4 linked regions of the Homo sapiens genome follow. The protein of the gene in region 1 interacts with the protein of each later gene in a biochemical or structural test. Each region holds a gene or a part of one and is shown on either strand. Other genes may lie near its edges.

What was found.
Region 2: of the proteins of CASP8 (region 1) and NUCB1, one has a biochemical effect on the other in vitro, tested with the Homo sapiens proteins (one study listed by IntAct).
Region 3: of the proteins of CASP8 (region 1) and TNFRSF10A, one has a biochemical effect on the other in vitro, tested with the Homo sapiens proteins (one study listed by BioGRID).
Region 4: the proteins of CASP8 (region 1) and TNFAIP3 form a complex in vitro, tested with the Homo sapiens proteins (one study listed by BioGRID).

Annotation. Positions count from the first base shown.
Region 1 is NC_000002.12:201,267,036-201,270,535, forward strand, and holds part of CASP8 (caspase-8 isoform 2 precursor), read left to right. Parts: intron 1-2,474; coding exon of another isoform or gene 2,475-2,570; intron 2,571-3,500. UniProt on the Homo sapiens protein: Thiol protease that plays a key role in programmed cell death by acting as a molecular switch for apoptosis, necroptosis and pyroptosis, and is required to prevent tissue damage during embryonic development and adulthood.
Region 2 is NC_000019.10:48,917,312-48,920,591, reverse strand, and holds part of NUCB1 (nucleobindin-1 precursor), read right to left. Parts: intron 1,889-3,280; exon of another isoform or gene 1,867-1,888; coding exon 1,808-1,866; exon of another isoform or gene 1,701-1,807; intron 1,563-1,700; coding exon 1,470-1,562; intron 1,399-1,469; coding exon 1,306-1,398; intron 1-1,305. UniProt on the Homo sapiens protein: Major calcium-binding protein of the Golgi which may have a role in calcium homeostasis. Acts as a non-receptor guanine nucleotide exchange factor which binds to and activates alpha subunits of guanine nucleotide-binding proteins (G proteins).
Region 3 is NC_000008.11:23,197,603-23,201,102, forward strand, and holds part of TNFRSF10A (tumor necrosis factor receptor superfamily member 10A), read right to left. Parts: intron 3,159-3,500; coding exon 3,085-3,158; intron 2,999-3,084; coding exon 2,903-2,998; intron 2,316-2,902; coding exon 2,284-2,315; intron 1,847-2,283; coding exon 1,664-1,846; intron 1-1,663. UniProt on the Homo sapiens protein: Receptor for the cytotoxic ligand TNFSF10/TRAIL. The adapter molecule FADD recruits caspase-8 to the activated receptor.
Region 4 is NC_000006.12:137,880,536-137,883,812, forward strand, and holds the end of TNFAIP3 (tumor necrosis factor alpha-induced protein 3), read left to right. Parts: intron 1-499; coding exon 500-784; 3' UTR 785-2,777; downstream 2,778-3,277. UniProt on the Homo sapiens protein: Ubiquitin-editing enzyme that contains both ubiquitin ligase and deubiquitinase activities.

The DNA.
Region 1 (3,500 bases):
ATCACTTGGGAGGCTTTGGGAAGATGTCCCACCGGAGCCAGATTAAGAAATTTAGGGGCCTTATATATAATTCTATAGAAATGCTAAGACCATAAAATAAAAATTTATTTTTCAAAGTGAAACATTACTTAGAGGTATGCTGAAGTTATAATAGAGTTTTTCTAAGTGTTCTCATTTTTTTCCTCTCTTATCTTGATGCCTCTCGATATCCAGATTGTGTGCTTACTTTGCCCATCCATTGAGTAAAGCATCATGGCTTCCCACCCTGAAATCCCCCTCCCACCTGCTTGCGGATGGCTATGAAAATTTTCAATGAGATTTAAGGGTTTTCTGCCACACTTAAAGACTCGAATGACTAAGTTCTTTACGGAGCTGTAAGCCGCTGGCCTGGCACATACAGCTAGGCAGTCTCCACCGAGGCTGCCCAGTTCCTGTGAGCCCGGCTGTATGACAGTTCTAAGCTTCTATAGGAAGACAGTGGCACGTTGGGTCATCCTGCCAAAGGCTGTAAAACTCAGCTTCTCCCCACCCTAGGGAGAGTGGGTAACCAAAGGTGTGAGAGAGAAACCCCATTCAGTTACAACTTCATGATGCTGTGACAAGACTTTAAAAACAGAAACACATTGTCACTTTCTCTCTTTCAACATCTCCTATTATCGGACACTACTTAAAGCAATTTTAGCTTTGCTTTCAGGAAACTTCTACTGAAGTCTTCGTTCTGGGCCCATTTCATTGTCTCTGTTTGCTTGTTGATAACTATGGCATGTGAGATGGAAAGGGTTCACAACCAGGGCTGACAGCTGCTGTCCTCTGATGGCTCAGCCCATGAATGCTCTGGTCTTTCTATTCTCAGAGACTATTTTTTGTTTTGAGGCTTGACTATTTTTTGTTTTGTTTTGTTTTGTTTTTGAGACGGAGTCTCGCTTCATCACCCAGGCTAGAGTGCAGTGGCATGATCTCGGCTCACTGCAACATCTACCTCCAGGGTTCAAGTGATTCTTCTGCCTCAGCCTCCTGAGTAGCTGGGATTACAGGTGTGTGCCACCATGCCCAGCTAATTTTGTATTTTTAGTAGGACGGAGTTCCACCATGTTGGCCAGGCTGGTCTCGAACTCCTGACCTTAAGTTATCCACCAGCCTTGACCTCTCAAAGTGCTGGGATTATAGGTGTGAGCCACCATGCCCAGCCAAGGCTTGACCATTTTGATTTTAAGTGAAAAAAGAGATATTCTGGGCCGGGTGAGGTGGCTCACGCCTGTAATCCCAGCACTTTGGGATGCTGAGGAGAGCTGATCACCTGAGGTCAGGAGTTCAAGACTAGCCTGGCCAACATGGTGAAACCTCATCTCTACTAAAAATACAAAAATTAGCTGGGTGTGGCGGCTCACGCCTGTAATCCCAGCTACTTGGGAGGCTGAGGCAGGAGAATTGCTTGAACCCAGGAGGTGGAGGTTGCAGTAAGCTGAGATTATGCCATTGCACTCCAGCCTGGGCAACAAGAGTGAAACTCTGTCTCAAAAAAAAAAAGAAAGAGATATTCTGGGTATATAAGTTTCCTAGGGCTGCTGTAACAAAGTAACACAAACTAGCAGGTTTAAAACAGTTTTTAAAATGTGTTTTCACAGTTCTGGAGGCCTGAGTCAGAAGTCAAGATGCCAACAGTGTTGGTTCCCTTTTAAGAGGCTCCGAGGAATAATCTTTTTCATGCCTTTCCCTGCTTCGGGTGGGTGGAGGAATCCTCAGTGCTCCTTGTCTTGTAGATGAGGCACAGCAGTCTCTGCCTATGTTCCCTTCTCTGTGTCTAAATCTCCCTCTTATGAGACAGTCACTGGATTAGGAATTAGGGCCCACCTAATCCAGTATGGCCTCATCTTTGTGTGTGTGTGTGTGTGTGTGTGTGTGTGTGTGTGTGTGTGTGTGTGAGACAGTGTCTCACTACATCGCCCAAGCTGGAGTGCAGTGGCATGATCTCGGCTCAGTGCAACCTCCACCTCCTGGGTTCAAGCAATCCTCCCACCTCAGCCTCCCAAGTAGCTGGGACTACAGGCACCCGCCACCATGTCTGGCTAATTTTTGTATTTTTTTGTAGAGATGGAGTTTCAAAATGTTGCCCAGGCTAGTCTTGAACTCCTGGGCTCATGCAATCTGCCCACCTCAGCCTCCCAAGTTCTGGGATTACGGGCATGAGCCACTGCGCCTGGCCAGCATGACCTCATCTTAATGAGATTTTATCTGCAAACGTCCTGGGTCCACATAAGGTCGCATTCTCATATTCCAGATAGACATGAATTTTGGGGAAGAGGGGAGAACACTATTCAACCAGTACACTAGATAGCTTTGGTTTACTAGCATTGTGAAGTCTTTATAAGGCACTTATTCATTAAGGCGCCAGTTAGTCCTAAAAACCCACAGCCCCAGAACAAGGAAAGCCGAGGGGGGTCTCATCTTGTGCCCACCATCTTGGTCCTTTGAAGGTTCCACTTCTGCCGCATGAGCTGGGCTGAAGCAAACAGCCAGTGCCAGACACAGTCTGTACCTTTCTGGCGGAGGGTCGATCATCTATTAATAAGGCAGGATCTCTCTTAAAATCTTTAATGTATTGGCTTAGAGATAAAAGGGTCCGGGCAATCCTGACTTACTGCTTGTTCATTATCATTGAATACTAGCCAGAAGCTAATAAATATGCTAGGGTGACCACTTACCATTATAAGAAAACACTAGACATTTTATTTTCCAGTTATAATTGCTACCTATAAAATAAAGATCTTATAAACTATTCAGGTTCATTACTAAATGGTGATGGTACAAGAAAGCCTATAGGCTTCAATAATGAGGAAAGCAAAAGGGTAAATACCTTGTAATAAAGGTGAAAGAGTCAGAGTAGCTTTGGATTAGATCCAATTTTGGCCAAACTGAAAGCTTTAGATAAACACTTCTAGGGTAGAGAGTCCATGAGAAGGGGGATAAGGCAGATGGTAATACTGAGTAATTTCTGTTTCTACGCCATTTTTATTTTCAGAATTTTACTTTTCTAATTAAATTTTAAAGTCAACGTGTTTTTGTATTAAAATTATTTTCCTTTACACCATAGTATTGAAAGGTTTGCTGACTTCTAAAACATTCCTTTGTTCACCTATTCGACAAGCATATTCCAAGAGCCTAAATGTGCCAATCACATAAATGTGATAGGCATAGATTAGGAAATAGTAACACCTATCACTCATTGAGCACTTAGTGTGTTGCCAAAGACTGATTTAAGTACTTCACATAAACTTATTTGTGTAACCCTCGAAACCTTCCTATGATGTGGTTACGGATAATTATCTTCAGTCTATGGACGAGGAAAAAATGTGTAACATGTCTAAAGTTAACACTGCTCAAAGATAGTGGAACCAAGGCTCCAACACCAATAGCCTGGGTCCGCTGAGCTCAATCATTGCACCTCACAACCCTCTGGGTTTATGAAAATAAAAAGGGTACGGACCTGGCCACTAGGGGAC
Region 2 (3,280 bases), on another chromosome or scaffold:
AGAATGCACCATTGCACTACAGCCTGGGCAACAAGAGCAAAACTCTGTATTGAAAAATAAACAAACAAATAAATAAATAAATAAAACAGAGACCTAGATTAGCTGGGCATGGTGGTATGTGCCTGTAGTCCCAGTTACTCAGGAGGCTAAGGAAGGAGGATCACCTGAGCCCAGGAATTCAAGGCTGCAGTGAACTATGATTACACCACTGCACTCCAGCCTGGGTGACAGGAGACCCTGTCTCAAAAAATATTAATAAATAAATAAAAGAATGAGCTAGATTAGCTAGGCATGCTGGCATGTGCCTGTAGTCCCAGCTAATAGGGAGGCTCAGGCAGGAGGATCACTTGAGGACAGGAGTTTGAGGCTGCAGTGGGCCATGATAACACCCCTGCACTCCAGCCTGGGTAATCCCAGCACTTTGGGAGGCTGAGAAGGGTGGATAGCTTGAGTCCAGGAGTTTCAGAGCAGCCTGGCCAACATGCAAAACCCTGTCTCTACCAAAAAATACAAAAATTAGCTAGGTGTGGTGCGGTGGTGCATGCCTGTAATCCCACCACTTAGGGAGGCCAGGTCAGGTGGATCGCTTGAGTCCAGCAGTTCTAGAGCAGCCTGGCCGATATGGCAAAACCCCATCTCTACAAAAAATACAAAAATTAGCCAGGCATGGTGGCTCACGCCTGTAATCCCAGCTACTCATGAGGCTGAGATGGGAGGATCGCTTGAATCCAAGAGGCGGAGGTTGCAGTGAGCCGAGATCCCACCACTGGGCTCCAGCCTACGCGACAGAGCAAGACCCTGTTTCAGAAAAAAAAAAAAAAAAAAAAAAATCACACCTCTAATCCCAGCACTTTGGGAGGCCAAGGTGGGTGGATAACCTGAGGTCAGGAGTTTGAGACCAGCCTGGCCAACATGGTGAAATCCTGCCTCTACTAAAAATACAAAAATCAGCTGGGTGTGGTGGCACGCACCTATAATCCCAGCTACTCAAGAGGATGAGCCAGGAGAATTGCTTGAACCTGGGAGGTGGAGGCTGCAGTGAGCCGAGATCGTGCCACTGCACTGCAGCCTGGGCGATGGAGTGAGACTCCGTCTCAGAATAAATAAATAAATAAATAAATAAATAAATAAATAAATAAGAGTCCTAGAGACAGGGGAAAACAGAGACCCAGAGATAGAGATGCAGTGACCCAGGAGAATGGACGGGGACCCAGAGAGAAAGAGAAGGGGCCTAAGATTCTGAAAGAAAGGTCATGGCTAGAAGAGAGAGAGGTTCAGGACCCCGAGTATCCCCCATGTTCTCACCTCCCAGCCCTCCCCGGTGTCCCCAAACTCCTTCCTCTGAGTGGATGCGAGGAACTCCTCCAGGGTCACGAGGCGGTCCTGGTTGGTGTCCACCTGGGGAGCCAGATAAGGGTGAGTGACAGAGCTGGGGGCCCGTCCTCTCCCCCGCCTGGCCCCCACCTCACATTCTTCATCACATGCTCCCGCATGCGCAGTCGCTCCTCCTCCATCTCCCGCATGTCGTCCTCCTCATTCTTTGGGTCGTACACTTTCTCCAGCTGCAGGAGCAAGCGAGAGGCAGACAGCATTGAGAGGTCCCCAGCGAGCTCATTCCCGACAACTTCAACTCCCAGCAGTCCTTTGGGCACGCTACCACTCCTGGGAGCCGTTTTTGCCCCAGGGGCTGATGGGAGTTGTAGTTTTCACTGAGCTCCCATCCAGGGGGATTTAAGGGGACTGCAGGAGGAAACAAGTGGCTGATTTGGGCGTCCCTCCAGGTGCCCGAGGCTTCCAAGATGCTCACCTCCTTGGTGAAGAGTGCCTCCAGCTCCTGCTCATCCAGGACACCATCACTGTTGATATCTGAAGGGAAGAGGATAGCAAGGTATCTCAGGGGACCGAGGACGGGATGTGTAAGGTCCCTGGTGAAGAAATTTTGGGCTGATGTGGGGTCTGTTATCAGAGGACAGGTAACTACGGGTCTCCCGCGGTGGAACGGTGGCCCCCAGGCTTTAGTACCCCACTAGACCCGTTGCTAGGGCCACTGCCTAGCGACCAGGGGGTTGAGAATGGAATAGATCAAAGGGAGGGTTCGAGGAAACATGCTTGGGTCACTGTCATGCAGGATTCTCTGGCCCTGGCATTCAGTGCTCTGGACACAGAGTCAGCTCCAGGGTTATCAGGGACCTCTGCCTCCCAGACAACCAGGCCAGTGCCGACTCCAGTTGTGAGGGGAGCCTCTCCTACCAACGTAGACCCCACAGCTGCAGGGCTTCAGGCTCGGTCAGCCACACTTCCTGTCCTCACCACCGGCCCTCCTTCCTCGGCTCCCTCAGACAAGCACAACCTTCCTCCTGAGGAGGAGGCCAGGAACCCTCATCTTGCAAATCCAGTGGTTAATTTCCACCTGCATCTGACTTGACTTTCTGCCCTTGGCTTCCAGAACATGATTCTGTCCTCTCTGGCTGCCCCTCCACCTCCTTTGACGGCTCCATCCTCTTCCTGACCTCCACATGCTAGTGTGGCCCAGGGCTCAGGCCTGGGGGTCTCTTCTCTGCCTAAACTCTGGATCTGCGCTGTCCAGTACAGTAGCCGCTAGCCACATGGGCTGTTTAAATGTAAATTGATTAAGATTAAAGAAAATGTAGGGGCCAAATTTAGGGGCTCATGCCTGTAATCCCAGTACTTTGGAAGGCTAAGGCAAGATCATTTGAGCACATTAAGTTCGAGACCAGCTTAGAAAAGATGGCTAGACCCCGTCTCTACAAAAAAAAAAAAAAAAGTAAAAAATTGGGCCGGGTGCGGTGGCTCACGCCTGTAATCCCAGCACTTTGGGAGGCCGAGGCAGGAGGATCACCTGAAGTCAGGAGTTCAAGACCAGCCTGGCCAGCATAGTAAAACCCCGTCTCTACAAAAATACAAAAATTAGCCAGGCATAATGCCAAGTGCCTGTAACCCCAGCTACTCAGGAGGCTGAGGCAGGAGAATAGCTTGAACCTGGGAGGCGGGGGTTGCAGTGTGCCAAGATCATGCCATTGCACTCCAGCCTGGGCAACAGAGCAAGACTCTGCCTCAAAAAGAAAAAAAAAATTTAAAAATTGGCTGGGCATGGTGGTGTGCACCTATGATCCCAGCTACTCTAAGGGTTGAGGTGGAAGAATCACTTGAGCCCAGGAGGTCTGGGTTGCAGTGAGCCATGATCACGCCACTGCACTCCAGCCTGGGTGACAAAGGGAAGCCCCATCTCTAAAAATAAAAAAAATGAAAAATAAAAAAA
Region 3 (3,500 bases), on another chromosome or scaffold:
GTTGTATAATTATTTCATTATATATTATAATGTGATAAGAATAGAAATAAAGTACACAATAAACGTAATGTGCTTGAATCATCCCCAAACCATCTTCACCTCCCAGTCCATAGAAAAATTGTCTTCCACAAAACTGGTCCCTGGTGCCAAAAGGTTGGGGACCATTCGTTAATAATATAATGTCTTTTGTATACACATACACTGATGCATAGATTTGGACAAAGAATCACAAGAAATGATATCTCATAGTTACTTGAGGAAAAAGACCCAGGGCACTGCAGAGTGGAGGATGCTCTCTTTACTTACTGAGTACCTTTTGATAGTTTAAATTTTCTCATTTTAAATATATAAACTATTTGTTCATGTCAAAGCACCTTATCAAGCTGGAGATTATTGACCTTTTTAATGTTTGCCTTCTTTTTTTTTTAATTACATTTTTGGTTAGAATAAATGGGTACTAATGCAAGAAAGGAACTGAATGGAACAGTCTAGGTGGAAGGAGATCATTGTCTAGATGAGCATTTAACCTGTGATTAAGGAGGGACCCAAAGCAGAGGGAAATGGGAGAATCGGCAGCTCAAAGGGGTTGGAAAAACCAGACAGTGACTAGAACAATTCAGGGAGTGCCTCGCTTTGCACTGAAACACAAAACAAGTTCCATTTAGATTATAAAGTTATATGCAAAAATCACATCATTGAAAAAAATATCTCCATAAGAAGTTAGAGGAGTTCGTCTTGTGTTGGCAAAAGGTCTTTCTACAGTAGTGAGCAATGAAAAGGTAAAAGTATCTACAGATTTCACTGGTTAAAAATTAAAGCTTCTACACCTGAAAATATTAGAACAAAAAGGGGCAAGAAGAAATTAGGAATCTACTGTCTGAATGTGAGAAAAAGCATGAGTAGGAGAGCAGGCCTTCTCATAAAGACTCTGAGAGACAAGACACTGATCTTACGCAAAAACAGTGAAAACAAAGAAATGTTCGTTTAAAACAATGTTTTCCTAAATAGCAAAAAAAAGAAAAAAAAAGAAAAGAAAAAGCCCTTCAATGTCAAATCAAAATACATGAACTGGTACAAACCAACACTAGGGGGCTGTGTGCATGTGTGTACCTGTATGTGTGGGTACGTGCATGTGTGTGTGCATGTGTGTACATGCATGTGTGTGCATGTGCGTGTATGTGCGTGTACACAGTAAGCAGCACTGTTACAGGCTGACTTGGAAATTGTGCTTCTTCTTGGAATCCTCCATACAACCATATGCAGAAATTTGGGCAGAGATTTAGATCCAAATATGTTTAATGCAATAATAATTTCAGAGTAAATTTAAAATCCCTGCTGTTATGAGCAAGGGCTCCCTAACTTCTGTAGGAGCACACAGTGGAGACCGTGCAGCCTTATTCAGTCATCAACAAACCCTGTGACCCCCACTCTATTCCTCTGGAGCTCCAGTTTCTGAGGACATGGCAAGGACAGGACAGGGACTAAGAAGCAGACATTTGGAAGAGTGCCTGTCCCCTTGTGAGGGTGGCTGCTTTTTCCCACGCAGCCCCGTCCCCTGCAGTCCCATCTCCCTCAGGCTCCACTTCCCCTTTGACCAGGAGAGCCGAGGCATGGCCTTCACCCCCTGCCTACAAGGTCTTGGAGGGGCCTGTCCCCAACTCACCAGCAGACACTGTGCCTCCCCTGGGGACTGTACAGTGACACCTGTCAAATCTGCCGGCTCCTGGCTTTCCATTTGCTGCTCAGAGACGAAAGTGGACAGCGAGTCTGCGTTGCTCAGAATCTCGTTGTGAGCATTGTCCTCAGCCCCAGGCCCTCGTAGGAGACCCAAGCGCCAGAAACACACCTTAGGAAGGCAAAGAGCCAACTCAGAAGCCCACACCCAGGGCTCCCCACGGGGTCCGTAGGGCACGGCTGGACCTGCTGCCACCACCCCCTCCCAGTGAGGTCACTCCAGGAAGTCCATGCTCAGCACATCCAGGACCTGCTGCTGGGGCCAGGCCCTGGTGCTGGGCTTGGGGGCTCACCCCATCCCCAGGGTACAGGCTGTGGGGTAAGGGTCTCACCTGGGCTGTAGGAAGCACAGGGCTACAGAATGGCCCACCAGCCTGTATGATGCTCAAAAGGGCCTGTGTCCCCCATAGTCAATGCACAGCATCCAGGCCACTTCAGAGACTCAGGGCAGCCATGAGAGCACGGGGACCCACCCACCTGGACTACACTGTGGGCAAGAAGCAGTTCCTGAGCCCCTGATGCCCCCAGCTCCTGGAGAAATCAACTCACCCTGTCCATGCACTTGGGGTCCCCTCCACAACCTAGAAGAGAAGACGGTTCCCTTAGTGGCCAGGGAGGGGCCCATGCAGCACTCCTTCTTAGAGGGCAGTGTTGGGCAGGGGTGGGCTGGGGGCTGGGACACTGGACAAAGATCCCCGGGCCTGGGGATCCACATGAGGCCCTGCTAACTCGGGAGATCCTTCAGGAGCGGGGAGCATAAAGGGAAGTAGGCTAAAAACAAACAAGTGGAACATCACTGTTTTCTGCTCTGTGTTTTGCTCTGAACAAAGCTACATAAATCCCACAACCACTTCTCGTCTCGACTCTTGTCATCCAGTTGAGGAGCTGACTGCCCCCTGCCTGGATGGGCCTGACCAGTGGAGGAACTGGCCCTGCCTTCCCAGACTTGGCTGGGAGATGAGGGGACCCCCAGCCTTGGGAGAGGGACGGATGACACCAGGGCCCTAGGGTTGCACAGGATGGGAGGATGGGGGGTGATCACAAGGAGGAAGATAGAGCCCGGCCAGAGACACTAGGACTTGGGGCAGGGGTGAGCGTTTCTGTCTGTGGGAACAGAAGAAGGCAGGGCAGAGAGTGCCCAGAGCCCTTGCCCTCAGCCAGCACCTACCTGAGCCGATGCAACAACAGACAATCAGCACAGCCACCAACAGCAACGGAACAACCAAAGTCACAACCAAAATCACCCATATATTATGTCCATTGCCTGAGAAAAGACAGGAAAAGACAGGAGTCTCGGGCTGCTGGTCCCTGTCTCCTCTGCAGCTGGGGCTTCCCCAGTGGGCTTTGTACCTGATTCTTTGTGGACACACTCGATGTCACTCCAGGGCGTACAATCCTTGACCTTGACCATCCCTCTGGGGCACCTGGGTACACACAGGGAGGGAGGGGGGGGACTCTTGATGGAAAGCTGGCCAGGTGGGATGAAAGAGGAGCCACTCTCCCTGCCCAATGTCCCTGAGAAGGCGTCAGGGGAAGGATAGTCTCCTCGTATCTGCAGGGGGTCCCCCTATGCTCCCTTGTTTAGGCTGGGGAAGGGTCTGAGCATGCACACTTTACCCCCTTGGCCTCCCTGCTCTGGGGTCAGAGCTGCAGTTCCAGGAGCCTTCTGTGCTGGGCACACACTAATCTTCCCTGGGCTGCAGGGGAGGCCTGCGTTAGGAGGAATCACACTCCAGGGGAAGATCACAAGCCCGTGTGGCCACAAG
Region 4 (3,277 bases), on another chromosome or scaffold:
GATGGTGATCAGAGGCTTCTTTGATTTGTAAGAGAAGCACAGACATCTAAAAAGCAGCCCTTCTTAAATAATCCTTTATCATAAGGAGCGAACAGACAGAGCTTCCCAGGGGCCTGCCTCCACCTAATGGCGCGTCAGAAAAGCCAGCTTTGACAGATAGGTGTGTCGCCTGTTGCTCACAGAATGGTAGGGAAGCTATGTAAGAACAGTGGTTTTTGGTCCCAACAGAAGAGAGCCAGGGAAAGTTTGCAGGCCAACTTAGGCTTGGCGGTTTTCCTCAGCCTCCCTGGGGGCCAAGTCAGCTTTCCTTGAGACTGGAAAGAAACATCCTTCGAGAGCTCTGGCTCATAGACTGCAATGCTCTCCTGTTCCCTTGCTCAGGCAGGTAAAGCTCTTTGTAGACTCCACACTCTCCAATGAGATTTCATTGTGCTCTCCCTAAGAAATGTGAGCAATAGTTTCCTGACTTTTTAATGATCTGCCTGTTCTTTCCACTCAGAGATCGAGCCAGCGCAGAGATGTGCCTCGAACCACACAAAGCACCTCAAGGCCCAAGTGCGCCCGGGCCTCCTGCAAGAACATCCTGGCCTGCCGCAGCGAGGAGCTCTGCATGGAGTGTCAGCATCCCAACCAGAGGATGGGCCCTGGGGCCCACCGGGGTGAGCCTGCCCCCGAAGACCCCCCCAAGCAGCGTTGCCGGGCCCCCGCCTGTGATCATTTTGGCAATGCCAAGTGCAACGGCTACTGCAACGAATGCTTTCAGTTCAAGCAGATGTATGGCTAACCGGAAACAGGTGGGTCACCTCCTGCAAGAAGTGGGGCCTCGAGCTGTCAGTCATCATGGTGCTATCCTCTGAACCCCTCAGCTGCCACTGCAACAGTGGGCTTAAGGGTGTCTGAGCAGGAGAGGAAAGATAAGCTCTTCGTGGTGCCCACGATGCTCAGGTTTGGTAACCCGGGAGTGTTCCCAGGTGGCCTTAGAAAGCAAAGCTTGTAACTGGCAAGGGATGATGTCAGATTCAGCCCAAGGTTCCTCCTCTCCTACCAAGCAGGAGGCCAGGAACTTCTTTGGACTTGGAAGGTGTGCGGGGACTGGCCGAGGCCCCTGCACCCTGCGCATCAGGACTGCTTCATCGTCTTGGCTGAGAAAGGGAAAAGACACACAAGTCGCGTGGGTTGGAGAAGCCAGAGCCATTCCACCTCCCCTCCCCCAGCATCTCTCAGAGATGTGAAGCCAGATCCTCATGGCAGCGAGGCCCTCTGCAAGAAGCTCAAGGAAGCTCAGGGAAAATGGACGTATTCAGAGAGTGTTTGTAGTTCATGGTTTTTCCCTACCTGCCCGGTTCCTTTCCTGAGGACCCGGCAGAAATGCAGAACCATCCATGGACTGTGATTCTGAGGCTGCTGAGACTGAACATGTTCACATTGACAGAAAAACAAGCTGCTCTTTATAATATGCACCTTTTAAAAAATTAGAATATTTTACTGGGAAGACGTGTAACTCTTTGGGTTATTACTGTCTTTACTTCTAAAGAAGTTAGCTTGAACTGAGGAGTAAAAGTGTGTACATATATAATATACCCTTACATTATGTATGAGGGATTTTTTTAAATTATATTGAAATGCTGCCCTAGAAGTACAATAGGAAGGCTAAATAATAATAACCTGTTTTCTGGTTGTTGTTGGGGCATGAGCTTGTGTATACACTGCTTGCATAAACTCAACCAGCTGCCTTTTTAAAGGGAGCTCTAGTCCTTTTTGTGTAATTCACTTTATTTATTTTATTACAAACTTCAAGATTATTTAAGTGAAGATATTTCTTCAGCTCTGGGGAAAATGCCACAGTGTTCTCCTGAGAGAACATCCTTGCTTTGAGTCAGGCTGTGGGCAAGTTCCTGACCACAGGGAGTAAATTGGCCTCTTTGATACACTTTTGCTTGCCTCCCCAGGAAAGAAGGAATTGCATCCAAGGTATACATACATATTCATCGATGTTTCGTGCTTCTCCTTATGAAACTCCAGCTATGTAATAAAAAACTATACTCTGTGTTCTGTTAATGCCTCTGAGTGTCCTACCTCCTTGGAGATGAGATAGGGAAGGAGCAGGGATGAGACTGGCAATGGTCACAGGGAAAGATGTGGCCTTTTGTGATGGTTTTATTTTCTGTTAACACTGTGTCCTGGGGGGGCTGGGAAGTCCCCTGCATCCCATGGTACCCTGGTATTGGGACAGCAAAAGCCAGTAACCATGAGTATGAGGAAATCTCTTTCTGTTGCTGGCTTACAGTTTCTCTGTGTGCTTTGTGGTTGCTGTCATATTTGCTCTAGAAGAAAAAAAAAAAAGGAGGGGAAATGCATTTTCCCCAGAGATAAAGGCTGCCATTTTGGGGGTCTGTACTTATGGCCTGAAAATATTTGTGATCCATAACTCTACACAGCCTTTACTCATACTATTAGGCACACTTTCCCCTTAGAGCCCCCTAAGTTTTTCCCAGACGAATCTTTATAATTTCTTTCCAAAGATACCAAATAAACTTCAGTGTTTTCATCTAATTCTCTTAAAGTTGATATCTTAATATTTTGTGTTGATCATTATTTCCATTCTTAATGTGAAAAAAAGTAATTATTTATACTTATTATAAAAAGTATTTGAAATTTGCACATTTAATTGTCCCTAATAGAAAGCCACCTATTCTTTGTTGGATTTCTTCAAGTTTTTCTAAATAAATGTAACTTTTCACAAGAGTCAACATTAAAAAATAAATTATTTAAGAACAGATTGTGATGTTTTCAATTGATGAATGCTGAAAGAAAAAGAAAGGCTTGGATATTAAGACTGTGCTTCCTAAGCAGCTTTATTTTGAGGTGCACCTGAGCAATGCACACATCTCTCATCCATGGTAGCAAGGCAGCTTTTCATAAATAATAACTGTATGAGGTCCAGGCCCAGTCCTCAAGCACAAGCCCCCGCTTGACAATGAAGACACTCTTCCTCTGATGGGAAGAGGAAAGGGATGCTAGGACCCTGTGGCCCTTTTAAGCTTCCTGCCCTAAACTTTTATAAAGTGAAGAAAGAGAAAACAAGAGGGAGGAGGAGGGAAAGACAGGAAAGAGAGAAGTAGGCAGGCAGGAAGGAAGACTGATGTAAGATCTCCTGGGTCAGACAAAGCAGAGGAGGCAGCGTGGCTGTGCTGGCTGCCAGAACCAGGAAATTAAAAAATAACACATTCCTCCATGCGCAAGCCTTCATCCCCACCTCCCATCCAGTACAAATGGA